2 linked regions of the Homo sapiens genome follow. The protein of the gene in region 2 binds, or shares a complex with, the protein of the main gene of each other region. Each region holds a gene or a part of one and is shown on either strand. Other genes may lie near its edges.

Region 1 (7,029 bases), on a different chromosome or scaffold from region 2:
ACTGTGTTAGCCAGGATGGTCTTGATCTCCTCGTGAGCCGCCCACCTCAGCCTCCCAAAGTGCTGGGATTACAGGCGTGAGCAACCACGCCCAGCTGTCAGACAAAATTTTTAAGAAAACAAAATTTTTTCCAGAATATTACATTACAAAAATCAATGAATAAATGAACTACACTGTAACTTTAATACTTATTCCATATGAAAAACCAAACTGTTTCTGGCAATTTGATTGATCTCTTGAGAGTCTGCAGTGCATTCATTCCATGGTTAAAACCGTGTGTAGGCATTGCGTTGCTGCTGCTGCTGTAATGGCTGCTGGGCTTGCTGCTGTTGTAAGCGAATTTGCTGGGAATAAGGGTCTTCCAGGGATTTTACAAATATGGTAGTTCTGGGACCAGTCTTCCATACTATACCATTGGCATCTTTCACAGAAGATTCCACTGTAATGTTGTGTGTTCCAAGGATAGCAAAGTTCAACAGAAATTGAGTACTGAAGTAATCATTATGAGGTTCAACCCTTTGCTCCATCTCATTGGTCATGTTGTCAATGGGTATCTGCAATGAAACAATTGTTAACTAACAACAATGGCTAACATTTCTTCAGTGCTTACTATGAGTTAGGCCCTGTTCTAAGAGCTTATTTAGACCATGCAGACAATAAAAAATTAGGTACTGCTATCATCCTTGCTTCACCGATGAGGAGTCTAAGGCAGACAGGTTAAGTAATGTCTCCAAAGTCACATGATTAGTGAACGGAGTAGGAATCTGAACACAGGCAGACTACCTCCAGGGCCTACACTCTGAACTACTAAGTGATGCTCCTCACTCTACTTGAGTAGAATGAGCTCCCAGAGCCGTTGACAGCCCCTTCACATGCTGGCCTTTCTTCCTTGCTTACTCAACCCCATCTCTAAATCCCTATCTTCCTTTAGACTGTGAAGAGATATTCTGAAGAAATAGGATGAAATCACCTGTTCCAGAGAGTTTAAAACCTAAGAGACTGAAAAAGAACAAAACACTAAGCAAATTTAAGTTAGGTTCCCCCCCAACAGTTAGTCTGATTTTTATTACTTAATGTAGTGATTCCTTACTCCTTTAACAAATTAACTGAACCATTTGTACATTGCTCATTTAATAAGCACTGTTTTGTTCAGACTGGAAGTACAATATGTTATAAAACACAGATTTATAGGCTCATTCATTTAGCCAGACACTCATGCCTTTGTTCTTCAAAGACCAGAATAAAACCTGCTGACGTACTCTTACCTGTACCCAAGATGAAACGTGTCAAGAGACAGATTTATCCTGAGAATGCAAATAAAGGTGATCTTAATGTGTATTTGACCAAATTACTCTAGGTTTATGTGCGTGTTTCTGTGGTGTAATTAATTATATAAATGTGCCCTGCAGCTTTGTGTCTCAAGGAGCAGTTATCATGTCACTTTTCCAGAGACATTTACCTGTAATAGTAATGAACTGACGTCACCAACCAATTCAAGGTCTTAGAATTATTTATAGTACAGGTACTTTTTCACATTTAGCCTTTGTACAGTTTTTATTTCCCTAAAGAATATGCCAACCAAAGAACTTCCTTAAAAGGACCAGAAATAGGCCTAGGGAACCTGATCACCCTGAATGGATGGCTGCATCTTAAGCTGCAAACTCACTGTGAATAACACTGCAAAGTAATCATGTTATTACTCGGCTTATTATATCAGCTTCCTGACTTTAATCAATGCCTCTTGAGAGGTAGGTCAACAAGCAGAAGACCATAGCTTCTAGGTTTGAATGTTATTTTCTTAACAGTAGAAATTATATGCAAGTAACAAAGAGAATCATGGTTACTACTGTTTCAAATTCAAAGTGAAGAGAGAGTTGCAGACAGGGATAAATTATGTAAATTCTCATTACAACCTTCTGTGACAGCAGATACCCAATTTTAACAGTTATACTCTAAATATAGTAAATAATTTTTTCATCATTCACAAATTATTGAGTGGCTACATAAGGTACCATGCTGTATGGCACAGAAGTCAAAACAGAGGAAAAGAGGAGAATGAAGGCTCAGCCGTGTCAGAGTGGACAGAGTGCCAAAGTGAGAGGAACTTGCCATAGTTAAGAAAGTAGTAATGGCTTAAGAAAGTAATAATAGTTTAGAACCAGACCTTCCCTTGGCTTTTTAACCTAAAACCACCAAAGATAATAAAATGCTCTCTTTTTATACCTTCACTGATACCCTGCCTTCCATGCTATGCCACAATAAACCTGGACACAGCCAATCTGGGCATCTGAGTAACTTCGCTGCTACAACTGTGGACTTGGTCCCTTGCTTCATTTACTGTGGATAAACCACCAGGGAATCGGAAATAAATGTCTAAAGCAAGGAACATTCTTTATCTCGAACACTGGCATTTCATGGGCACAGATTCAGCATCTTAGCTCTGGCTAACAATGTAGCCTAATTCAGGTTATTACTTACCTATATCCTGAGTTCCCAAGGCAGCAAATCCCTAGGGTTACACTCTTAAAAAAAGATTTTACTTTATCTGATCATTTTATAGAAATGCTATATACTTTTTTTAATGATAAAATTTACTTAAAATGGAGAAAACTAAATAGATGTGTATTTTTTGTGGGGAGGGATTGGGTGGGTTAGGGAGACACTTATTTTCCAACTTCTGACGTTTGAAGGGACCTCCTGATGTAAGAGAGACCTTTCGTTAGATTAATATTACTGACCTAGCAGGGAGGAGGTGAGTCTTGCTGATGGGTGACTTTCTGGGCAGGAACCAGACATGGGAAGGTAAGCACTTGCTCTTTCTCTTCTGCTTTGGGCACCTGAGTCCTCTGTGCCCTGCCATAAATTTTATAGGGGCAGGCTCCCATACGTACTGACTGAGGCTGGGTGAAAAAATCCAATTCAGGGGTCTACGGTTAGAAAGGCCTTGCTGCCAGGCATTGGAGTTAGGTTTTCCCACAGCTCCAACAGTAATAAAACTCATATTTTGATCTTTGCCTGGATGCTTTGTCTCTATCAACTGGTTCAGGGAGAGAAAAAGAAGTGTTTATCAACCCCTTACAGCCCCAATGTGGGCTTTTAATTTATGTCCATCTGATCCCTTTGGAGGTATAACTGCAATCTATTTAACCATGAAAAACACTGGAAAACTTCCATCAATGAGCTCATATAAAACCTGTATCACAATTCTGCCTCTTTTCTAAATTACCTTGTAGTCTTGTCCAGATTTACTCTGCAGTGTGGAAGAAACATTCAGACAGACAGACTGAATTTTGCGGAAGAGTCCTGGTTTAGATCCGTGCTGAACCACTCCCTCTACCTTTAGCGCCAGCTGCTGGTTATTCTGGACAGCAATGGGCTCTGCAGGATTCCGGGGCGATGGTGACAGAGCAAGCTGGAATGCCAACACTCAAATAAATGCCAACAACCAAGAGCAAGCTTCCTTCCGACAAACATGTCTGTGCTAATCACTGGTTACAGGTTAACAAATTCGATTGTGCACTCCCCCACCCCCACAGGACCTGACTGTGCCAGGACAACGAGACAGATGTACCTTTAAAGTGCCTCCTTCTAAACATCACTGTGGTTTTCATCCCAAACCTCAGTTCTATTTGAGGATAATAGAGAATTAGAAAAAAGCAAAGGCACTATTCTCCCAATTTTTGTGGTGAGGCATTTCTTTGACAATGAACCACTTCTAGTAGGGAAAGGCATTATATAAATTTTCATTACCTAAGAGCTGTCTCTTTGGTCTTACGTAATTTTAAATAAACTAAATTCAAATGTAAATGAACTTAAAGTTCCAGGATTATCTACACAACGAAGTCACTGTGCTATAAAAAAAGTCAATATCTACAAATGAATCAAATGACATTTTTCACCTCTCATTAGTTTTTCTTCAAAAATGTATTAAAAATCCCAAACACATCAATTAAAGAAAGCCCAAGTCTTGCTAAATGAAAAGATGGAAGAAATTTGAGTCTTTTTGATAATGTTGTTGAACTACTGATCAACCCTGGAGACATCCTACTTTAGGACTTCTTATCTAGATCGTCAAATCTTCCTCATTATTCCAGTCATTTTGAAATGGAATGCTCTGTTATTTGTAATCAAAACATTTGCATGGATGTAAAAGTTTACTGAAGACATTAACTAACAGGGATAATCCAGGAGATCTCTTAGAAGTGACAATTTTCTCCCTTTTCCAACAATTTCATTTTCTGAATCAAAAATAGCTTTTGAATTGTGAGTGGCTTAAATATTTCAAAATACTAATTCTACTCACTGGTTAGCCCCTCAAAACATGTTACTGAAAGGCAGAAGTACTTTGGAAGAAGAACTGGTGACAGTTTACTGGATCTGATTCATTCTAAGTTGGGTCTATAAGTTGGGTCTGAATAGACTCAGCTCAAGATCCTTGCAGGCTACTGTGATAAATCACTAATTTATTCCTGGAGGTGAGAGACAAACAACAGAGCTCCAGTTACCCAAATGCCTGTCTCATAGAATTTGGCACTGACAATTAAAAAGGGAGAGAGTTTAACTCCCAAATTCATTTCTTTCACCAAACCACTTGATAAAGGAGAGAAATGGCTTACAACTAGGTTTTATCAAAACCAAAGGTAAGCCAGGCACAGTGGCTCATGCCTGTAATCCCAGCACTTTGGGAGGCAGAGGTGGGTGGATCACTTGAGGTCAGGAGTTCCTGACCAGCCTAGCCAACATGGTGAAACCCCATCTTTACCAAAAATAAAAAAATCAGCTGCGTGAGGTGGTGGATGCCTGTAATCCCAGTTCCTTGGGAGGCTGAGGCAGGAGAATCGCTTGAACCCGGAGGTTGCGGTGAGCCAAAATCACACCACTGTACTCCAGCCCAGGCGACAGGGCGAGACTCTGTCTCAAAAAACAAAACAAAACAAAAAAACCAATAAACCAAAGGTAACACACTGAAGTGTAGCTATGTCCTACATAATCTTCAGAAGACACCTGGTTTTAAAACCTATATTAACCTTAGTATTCTTCCTGTATTACCTTGATGCTGGTAGACTGTAGTTTCTGGAAAAAATATCTCTGGAAAGAAAGGGGAACTTTCAGCAAAGCAATGATGGCATTGCAGAGGCATGCTGTGTGCTGGGGGAAAAAAGAAACTAAATCAAATAAAAATAAATTTTCAAATTTCATCAACAAGTGGTACATTCAGTATAAAACTACAAATGCCCATATAGATTATTACAAAGGTACATACCAATCAAGAACTAGGCATCACATCCAGGAACTGTGCATACATACTAAATCATTCATTACAGATTTTTACTTTATTGTGAAGTATATTCAATAAAATATAAGTGACAGAAATGAGAAAATCCACAGTCCTCGAGGCCAAGCAATAGGCAAATTCCACATTTCTACAGCGCTCAGAACTATCAGTATATTATTAAACAATTATATTAGATACTAAAATATAGAGTAACTATCACATGGCAAAGTATGATAAACAGTATGGTAAAGAAGCCCGAGCATTTTGCAGGACTTTGGCTTTGAGCTGGCTCATTCTTTCATTAGGTGGCTTGTCTCTATGGCCATTGGTCCTCAGAGTAAGCAGTGGTGGAAACTTGGTCGAATTCAGATGAAAGAGGACTATATAGTCGGGGAATCCTGAAACTCTAATAAAATATCTTATTTCTCAAATCTGCCTCACACATTTAACTGAGTTTTGAAAATCCCAGCATGACTGCAGAGGTACAGAAACACCACAGAGAATATTTTGAGCCTTAATGAAAGTGGTCATAAAATCAGAATTTAAGCGTTCAAAGATATTTTAAAGATTACCCAGTCTAATAGAAGAAAACTGAAAGTATCATAAGAACACTTTTAACTTCAGGTGAACCAGAACCATTCCTGCTTGGTCTACTATCCCTTCCTCAGTCTACTCCCGTCTCAGTGGCCTCGTAAGTCACCACAGTGAGGCAGCGCTCCTTTCACGGGGGCACTAGCTGCGGGAGGTCTGTTCTTGCAGACCCGATTCAGCAACGGATAAATAAAGTATGCTGACACACAGATATTCTGCTCTGCCAGTCCAGCTGAGGGTCCCAGCCGCTTACAGGCTCCTGCTGAGTCCTGTAAACAGTTGCAACTAGGCCCTGATCAGCTAGTCAGACTCGCATTTATTCAGTAAGATTAATTAACAAAAGCTTGAGTCAACACCATTAGAGGGAAATTGACATTGTGGACTTCTGAGTAAAAGGCACTTAAGCACTCACGGTACATCAAAGGTTAGTCTTTATATGAGTAAACAAGCTAGCCAGGTAAACTACTCTGCCTTTCTTTATTACTATTTTAATTTGTTTAAAGGTAAAGAGATCAGGCCGCCTTCAGCCAGATCTATTACTGAAGTTAGGCAAACTTCTCAGCCTTCCAAGAAGATTTGTGTCTATTTCTATAACTATCTCTAATATTTTTCCCACCAGCCTGATTGAAACCCAACACCACAGGTTGAAAACTGCTGCATGCACCATGTGGTATGCTGTCTGTCCCTCTAGGCTCCTGCTTTCAAGCAGAGTGTCACCTAGTTGCTCATGCTGTAAACATTTTTTTTTTTAAAGTTGGGTGTTAAGGCTAAAAGCCAGAAAAATCCATTCCTTATTGGGTTCAGGCAATTGAACATTTTGTGCCCAACAGACTCATAGTACAAATGCCAAGTCTATTACCTGAGATAATCACAACACAGATTTAAAGACACTGGTTCTATTTTTTCAGATTTAACTGTTAAAATAGCATTAATCAGCTTCCTGCAACAAGTAATTTGGAAAGTATTTGCAGAGACATCCACCTTTGGTGGACCTCTGATGCCACACTAGTGTCTAAGGAGAGAAACATCTTTGAAGCGTGGACTCAGAGGACCACAAGGGACTTCAGGCTGTTTTCAGGCAGAAAGTCACCATTTTGCCTTTTAAAAGAATGGTGCAGATTTTGCAATACCCTCTTGGAAAAGTGTGGAGTGCCTCTGAGGTC
Region 2 (7,068 bases):
AGAGATAGGTAGAGCAAAATGTTAGTGTAAGGCTGGGCACCGTGGCTCATGCTTGTAATCCCAGCACTTTGGGAGGCTGAGGTGCCAGGATTGCTTGAGCCCAGGAGTTAAGACCAGCCTGGGCAACATAGAGAGACTCCATCTCTAAGAAAAAAAAAAAGTATACCTATTTTACAGAGACATAAACTGAGACTCGGAGAAATTAAATGACTTGCCTAAAGTCATAGGAACTGGTAAAGGCAAAATTGAGACTCATGGCCTTGTCACCAACCCGGTACTCTTTCTGGTTTATAATACTGTATTTTCCTAAGTCCATCAGCTAAATATATTATTTGGTATAATGGAAAATCATTTCCACCAAATGAGGCAAAGTTAAATTTGCAGATTCTGTGTTTTCGATTTTCTCTACCCCTTGCAGCCACAGGAGGAAATTGCTACTAAGAAACTCCGACTAACAAAACCAAGTAAATCTGCAGCACTCCACATAGATCTGTGTAAAGCTACCTCCCCAGCAGATGCTTTGCAATACTTGCTCCAGTTTGCCAGGAAGCCTGTCGAGGCGGAAAGCGTAGAGGGAGTAGTCAGGATTCTCTTGGAACATTATTACAAGGTAAGAAAATCTTGAGGATCTGATGGGAGTATATCATGGGAGTTGTATCATGTCTGCAGAATGGTTAATATTACAAATAAATAGGGTATTCATTAGGAAGCTTTTATTGAGTGTCTTCCAAGTGCTAGGTACTATGGATACCGAGATAAAAAAGATACAGATCTTGACCTCAGAAAGTTATACTGTGTATAGTAGATGGAAACAAGACATGTCAATGATAAGGTGCATCATACTGCTGAAGTTACTGTGAGTGCAGTATGTGCAGAGTACAGTGGAAGCACAAAAGAGGAGTAAATATCAATCATGACCCATTCATCTCTGGAATGTGGTCCTGCTGTTCCTTTCCTAATTCATGGCCCTCATATCTAATTGCAGTGGCCCTCTTTTTTAATTAAAAATACATTTTTTTTTTTTTTTTTTTGGAGACAGAGTCTCGCTCTGTTGCCCATGCTGGAGTGCAGTAGTGCAATCTTGGCTCGCTGCAACCTCTGCCTCCTGGGTTCAAGCGATTCTCCTGCCTCAGCCTCCTTAGTAGCTGGGATTACAGGCACGTGCCACCACACCCTGCTAATTTTTGTATTTTTAGTAGAGACGGGGTTTTGCCATGTTGGCCAGGCTGGTCTCGAACTCCTGACTTTAAGTGATGCAGCCACCTTGGCCTCCCAAAGTGTTAGGATTACAGGCGTGAGCCACTGCGTCTGGCCAAAAAAACTGTTTTTGAGACAGAGGCTCACTGTCACCCAGCCTAGAGTTTAGTGGCATCATCATAGGTCACTGTAGCCTGGAACTCCTGGGCTTAAGTGATTCTCCTGGCTCAGCCTTCCACGTAGGTGGGACTGCAGACGTGCCACTACTCCAGGCTAAGTTTTGCATTTTTTTTTTTTTTTTTTTTGAGACTTGGTCTGTCACTCAGCCTGGAGTATAGTGGTGGCACAATCTTGGCTCACTGCAACCTCCGTCTCTTTGGTTTAAGTGATTCTCCTGCGTCAGCCTCCAGAGTGGCTAGGACCGCAGGTGTGTGACACCACACCCAGCTAATTTTTTTTGTATTTTTAGTAGAGGTGGGGTTTTGCTGTGTTGGCCAGGCTGGTCTTGTACTCCTGACCTCAAGTGATCCATGCACCCTGGCCTCCCAAAGTGCTGGGATTGCAAGCGTGAGCTACCATTCCCAGCCCAAAAATCATTATTATTATTACTATTATTATTTTTGAGATGGGGTCTTGCTTTCTCGCCCAGGCGGGAGTGCAGTGGTGCTATCACGGCTCACTGTACCCTCGACCTCCGAGGCTCAATTGATCCTCCTGCCTCAGCCTTCTGAGTAGCTGGGACTACAGGCATGTGCAGCATGCCTGGCTAATTTTTGTATTTTTTTTTTTTTTTTGTAGAGACAGGGCTTTGCTATGTTGCACAGGCTGATCTCGAATTCCTGGGCTCAAGCAATCCACCCTCCTTGGGCTTCCAAATTGCTGAGATTACAGGTGTGAACCACCACACTCAGCCCCCAAATTGTTAAGCTTATGGAAAAGTAGATAAAATACTATAGTGACCTACCAAATATCCATTCCTAGAATTTAACAGTTATTAGTATTTTGCCAAATTTGCTCTATTTTTTCGCTGAATTTTATTTTATTTTGTTATTATTTTTTTTGAGATGAGTCTCACTCTGTTGCCCAGGCTGGAGTGTAATAGCACTCCTGGGTTCAAGCAGTTCTCCTGCCTCAGCCTCCCAAGTAGCTGGGACTACAGGAGTGCGCCATCACGCTCAGCTAATTCTGTATTTTTAGTAGAGATGGGGTTTCACCATGTTGGCCAGGCTAGTCTCGAATTCCAGACCTCGGGTGATCCACCTGCCTCGGCCTCCCAAAGTGCTGGGATTACAGGTGTGAGCCACCGCGCCCAGCCTTGTTTTGTTGAATTTTTAAAAAGATATGTCATTTTTTTCTAATTATTTCATTACATATCTATTAAAAAGGGATACCTTTTTGTTGTTTTCTTTTTTTTTCTCACTGCTATGAGAAAGTAGAGGGACTTTTTATTTTTTAACATAGCCACCTAACCCTAATGAATAAAGTTAAGTAATTCTTTAATGTCATCTAAGAATTAGTTGATATTTAGATTTCTGTAGTTGTTCTCCCAGTACCTTTTTATAGTTGATGTATTCAAATCAAAATGCAAACCAGGTCCCCACATGGCATTCAGTCTTTTCAAAAATCTACAACAGTTACTATTTTGGTGACATTGATTTGATGAAGAAACTGAGACAGTTCTTTTGTAAAATGTCTTGTTTTCTGAATTCATTTACTTCTTTAAGGATTAACTTGTTCCTCTGTTCTCTGTATTTACTATGAACTGAAAGTTAGATCTATAGGCTTTGTTAGATTTAAGTTAAGCATATTTTTGACAATTTTAAGACTATGTTATAAATGGTGACTTGTACTTCATATTGCAGCTATCAGCATGCAAATGTCACCGTTACATTGAGGTCTTCCTTTACCCTTCTGTTTCATATCGAAACTGCCTATCCCCACCCCGCACTTCCTAGTCCCCTTCCTTGATTTTGTTTTCTCCATAGTAATTACCATCTTCTAATATTCTGTATAATTTCTTGTTAATTATGTTCCTTGTCCATTTCCCCATGCAGGAACATAAGCTTCCCTTGAGCAGGGATTTTTATGTTTTTTAATTGTTGTTTCTACAGAATCAAGAACAGTGCCTGGTAAAATAAATATTTGTTGAATGAATAAATGAATTAATTGATGCTTTTGTGATACATTTTACTCAACAAATATATATCAGACTTTGTTCTGGGCACTGGACGGTGTCCATTAGCACAATTGTTAAGTCTTATGCGTTGCAATTGTTTGCCATATGTGTCTATCTCCTTCAGACTTTGAGCTCCGTAAATTCAGAGGCTGCAGATCCATTAGTCTCTATCCCAGTGCCTGGCAGGTTCCTAGGAACATTGAAGGGACATTATAAATGTTTCACTTATGTTTTACGTGAATAAAATCAGGCTTTCTTTTTTTGTTGTTCTTTTCTTTAAAAAATTTTTTAAAAAATCGTATCTATCTATCTAGAGACTGGGTTATGAGACTGGCTAATTTTTATATTTTTGATAGAGATGAGGTTTCACCATGTTACCAAGGTTGGTCTCAAACTCCTGGGCTCAAGCGATTCACCTACCTCAGCCTCCCAAAGTGCTGGGATTACAGGCATGAACCACTGTGCCTGGCATCTTTTTGAGTGTTGCTCTGTTGCCCAATCTAGAGTGCAATGGCGTGATCACTGCCCACTGAAGTCTGGACTCCCAGGCTCAAGCCATCCTCCCACCTCAGCCTCCTGAGGAGCTGGGACCACAGGCACATGCCACCACTCCCGGCTAATTTTTTCTTTTTAATTTTTTTTGTAGAGATGGAGTCTCTCTGTGTTGCCCAGGCTGGTCGCGAATTCCTGAGCTCAAGCAACCCTCCTGCTTGGCCCTCCCAAAGGATTGGGATTACAGACGTGAGCTACCACATCTGACCAAAATCAGGATTTCTGTTCTCAAGAAGTTTTCGATCTCTCAGTGATCTATTTTCCGTTAGTCTTTTTCTTAGCAATATCTACCATTATTATTATATTAAAGATCTGTTACCAATAATCATCTATAATAATACTTCTTAGAGCAGTTAACATTATATTGCTTGTTAGAGTTTGAAAGCACTTTCCATATGTAATATTTTATTTAATCCTGGTGACAGCACCATTGTTATCTCTAAATTCCAGATATGGAACTAAGCTTAGAGCTGTTTAGTATCCAAGGTCACCCAGCTAGTAAATGGAAGGTATGGATTTGAACTTGGGTTTTTTTTTTAAAAAACCTTTTGTTATGGAACATTTCAGATATATACTATGTAAGTAAAGAGAATAGTTTAATTAATTCCCATGTACCCATTACCTGGCTTCAAAAATTATCATTTTGTGGCCAAACTTGTTTCATTTTCCCTCTTCCCCAATCCACTTCTACTTCTTTACCCTCACCTTCTCCACCAGATTCTTATGAAAATAAATTCCTGGCATCATATTATTTTAATCATAAATTTTGATTTATATCTTTAAGTGGTGAAGACTCTTTTTTTATTATTATACTTTAGGTTCTAGGGCACATGTGCACAACGTGCAGGTTTGTTACATGTGTATACATGTGCCATGTTGGCTTGCTGCACCCATTAACTCATCATTTACTTTAGGTATTTCTCCTAATGCTATCCCTCCCCCAGCCCCCCACTCCCCAACAGGCCCCGGTGTGTGATGTTTCCCGCCCTGTGTCCAAGTGTTCTCACTGTTCAATTCCCACCTATGAGTGAGAACATGCGGTGTTTGGTTTTCTGTCCTTGTGATAGTTTGCTGAGAAGGATGGTTTTCAGCTTCATCCATTTCCCTGCGAAGGACATGAACGCATCCTTTTTTATGGCTGCATAGTATTCCATGGTGTATATGTGCCACATTTTCTTAATCCAGTCTATCGTTGGTGGACATTTGGGTTACTTCCAAGTCTTTGCTCTTGTGAATAGTGCCGCAATAAACATACGTGCACATGTATCTTTATAGTAGCATGATTTATAATCCTTTGGGTATATACCCAGTAATGGGATTGCTGGGTCAAATGGTATTTCTAGTTCTAGATCCTTGAGGAATTGCCGCACTCTCTTCCACAATGGTTGAACTAATTTACACTCCCAACAGTGTAAAAGTGTTCCTATTTCTCCACATCCTCTCCAGCATCTGTTGTTGCCTGACTTTTTAATGATTGCCATTCTAACTGATGTGAGATGGTATCTCATTGTGGTTTTGATTTGCATTTCTCTGATGACCAGTGATGGTGAGCATTTTTTCATGTGTCTGTTGGCTGCATAAATGTGGCGAAGACTCTTAAAAAACATAATCTTTTGTCATGTCTAAAAGCAAAATTTAACTCAGGTGTTCTGATGTCAGATCTCAAGCACTTTAACCAGTCCATGCTGCATGCATTAATCAAGTGGACCCTAGCTCCTAAGGAAATGAGGAGGGATGCCAGATGGACCCAGTTCTAGATTGTTGACCATAGTGTTTTTTACCCTTTCTTCTGTTCTATCCAGAAATGTGGTATTTTATGTTAATATTTTAGTGGATAAAACTACTCTGGCTTCTGCTTTTTCCTACTTTTTTTTTGTGATCAGGCATTAGTATCTGAACTTATTTCACATGATTGATTCTTCACTTATGCTACTGTGCTAGTAGCTATGGAGGATGCAGAGCTGTGAGATATGTTCTTTGTCCTTTAGGGGCTAGCAGTGTAGTCGGCAGACCATATATGTAGTATGTAGATAGTAAGTGCTAAAGTTTTCCATTTGCTTATTTTTTCATTTGCTCAGCATGTCTGAATACTTACTCTGTGCCAGGCTTTGTGCTTCATGTTGGTAATAGAGATGTAGATGATGTAATCCCTGATCTGAGTCTTGAGTAAATAAGAAATGAATTAATAACAATACAGTGTTTCAGGTCTTATGAAATCTGGGGTAGGTTATGATATGGCCTCAAAGAAGGGGGCGATTAATTATTGGAAGCAGGGATCCAGAAATGCATTATAGAGTGGTAGCGATGCTTGAGAAAAGTCCTAGAAATAGATTTTGGCCAGTTGGAAGACAGGGGGAAAGACATTTTAGTTGTGAGCAACCGTGAACATGGGCATGGAGATGTGAGACAGGCTATCACATTAGAAGAAATGCAGCTAGTTTGGCTGGTGCAGATTTTAGGTTGGGAGCTCATCAAGAGATAAGACCAGAAGATTTGGAAGGCATCTGATTCTAAAGGGCCTTGTATTCTACCTTGTCAGTTTTTGTTTTAGAAATGTCACTCTGAGGGGAAGTATGGAGGATAAAGGAATTGGATGGACTGGAGTTAGAGTGACCAATTAGAAGACTGTAAGTTTGGGGAAAGGTGATGAAAGCCTGAACCAAGACAGTTTTAATGGTCAGAAGAAACAATTATTAGAGAAGGCTTCCCTGGAGGTAATTCTGTTTTTAGCTCAGGTGTGAAGGAGATCATTTATGTGTCATAGTAGAAGGAGTGCTAAGGGATTATTTCAGAAAGTAAAAGAACTTGAGTAAAGTATCCAAATGGATAAGGAATGTCACTAGGTCAGATGCTCTCTTATCTGCTTTTTTTTTTTTTTCATTTACATTTATTTTCTTTTCCCCCCCTTTTTTCCCTTTTTTTTCCTAACAAGGTCTCACTCCAGGCTGGAGTGCAGTGGTGCTATCATGGTTCACTGAAACCTCCACCTCCCAGGCTTATGCAATCCTCTCACCTCAGCCTCCTAAGTAGCTGGAACTATAGGCATGTGCCACCATGCCTGGCTAATCATTTCTTAATTGTGGTAACAATTAAAATTTATTATCTTAACCATTTTAAGTGTGCAGTTCATGTGTGTTAAGTAC

The links. The genes of interacting proteins can lie anywhere in the genome.
Region 1: the proteins of INTS4 (region 2) and INTS7 are in contact, whole or in part, in a cryo-EM structure (PDB 8RC4), measured with the Homo sapiens proteins. Residues at the interface, in NP_291025.3 of Homo sapiens: Glu536, Met539, Asp540, Arg571, His572, Ala574, Tyr575, Asp578, Ser579, Ser610, Phe613, Arg620, Leu624, Leu627, Gly631, Glu634, Leu635, Phe638, Arg641, Asp642, Arg645, Leu646, Glu648, Leu649, Gln650, Lys677, Leu678, Trp679, Asn680, Val681; in NP_056249.1 of Homo sapiens: Lys137, Asn138, His140, His141, Arg144, Gln145, Gly175, His205, His206, Asp207, Ala208, Ser244, Ser245, Leu246, Val247, Lys282, Thr283, Pro284, His285, Thr286, Thr321, Ile322, Lys325, His326, Gly686, Tyr689, Glu704, Gln707, Gln708, Leu711.

The regions. Positions count from the first base shown.
Region 1 is NC_000001.11:211,941,558-211,948,586, forward strand, and holds part of INTS7 (integrator complex subunit 7), read right to left. Parts: intron 5,149-7,029; coding exon 5,050-5,148; intron 3,413-5,049; coding exon 3,227-3,412; intron 555-3,226; coding exon 267-554; 3' UTR 1-266. UniProt on the Homo sapiens protein: Component of the integrator complex, a multiprotein complex that terminates RNA polymerase II (Pol II) transcription in the promoter-proximal region of genes.
Region 2 is NC_000011.10:77,984,650-77,991,717, reverse strand, and holds part of INTS4 (integrator complex subunit 4), read left to right. Parts: intron 1-418; coding exon 419-610; intron 611-7,068. UniProt on the Homo sapiens protein: Component of the integrator complex, a multiprotein complex that terminates RNA polymerase II (Pol II) transcription in the promoter-proximal region of genes.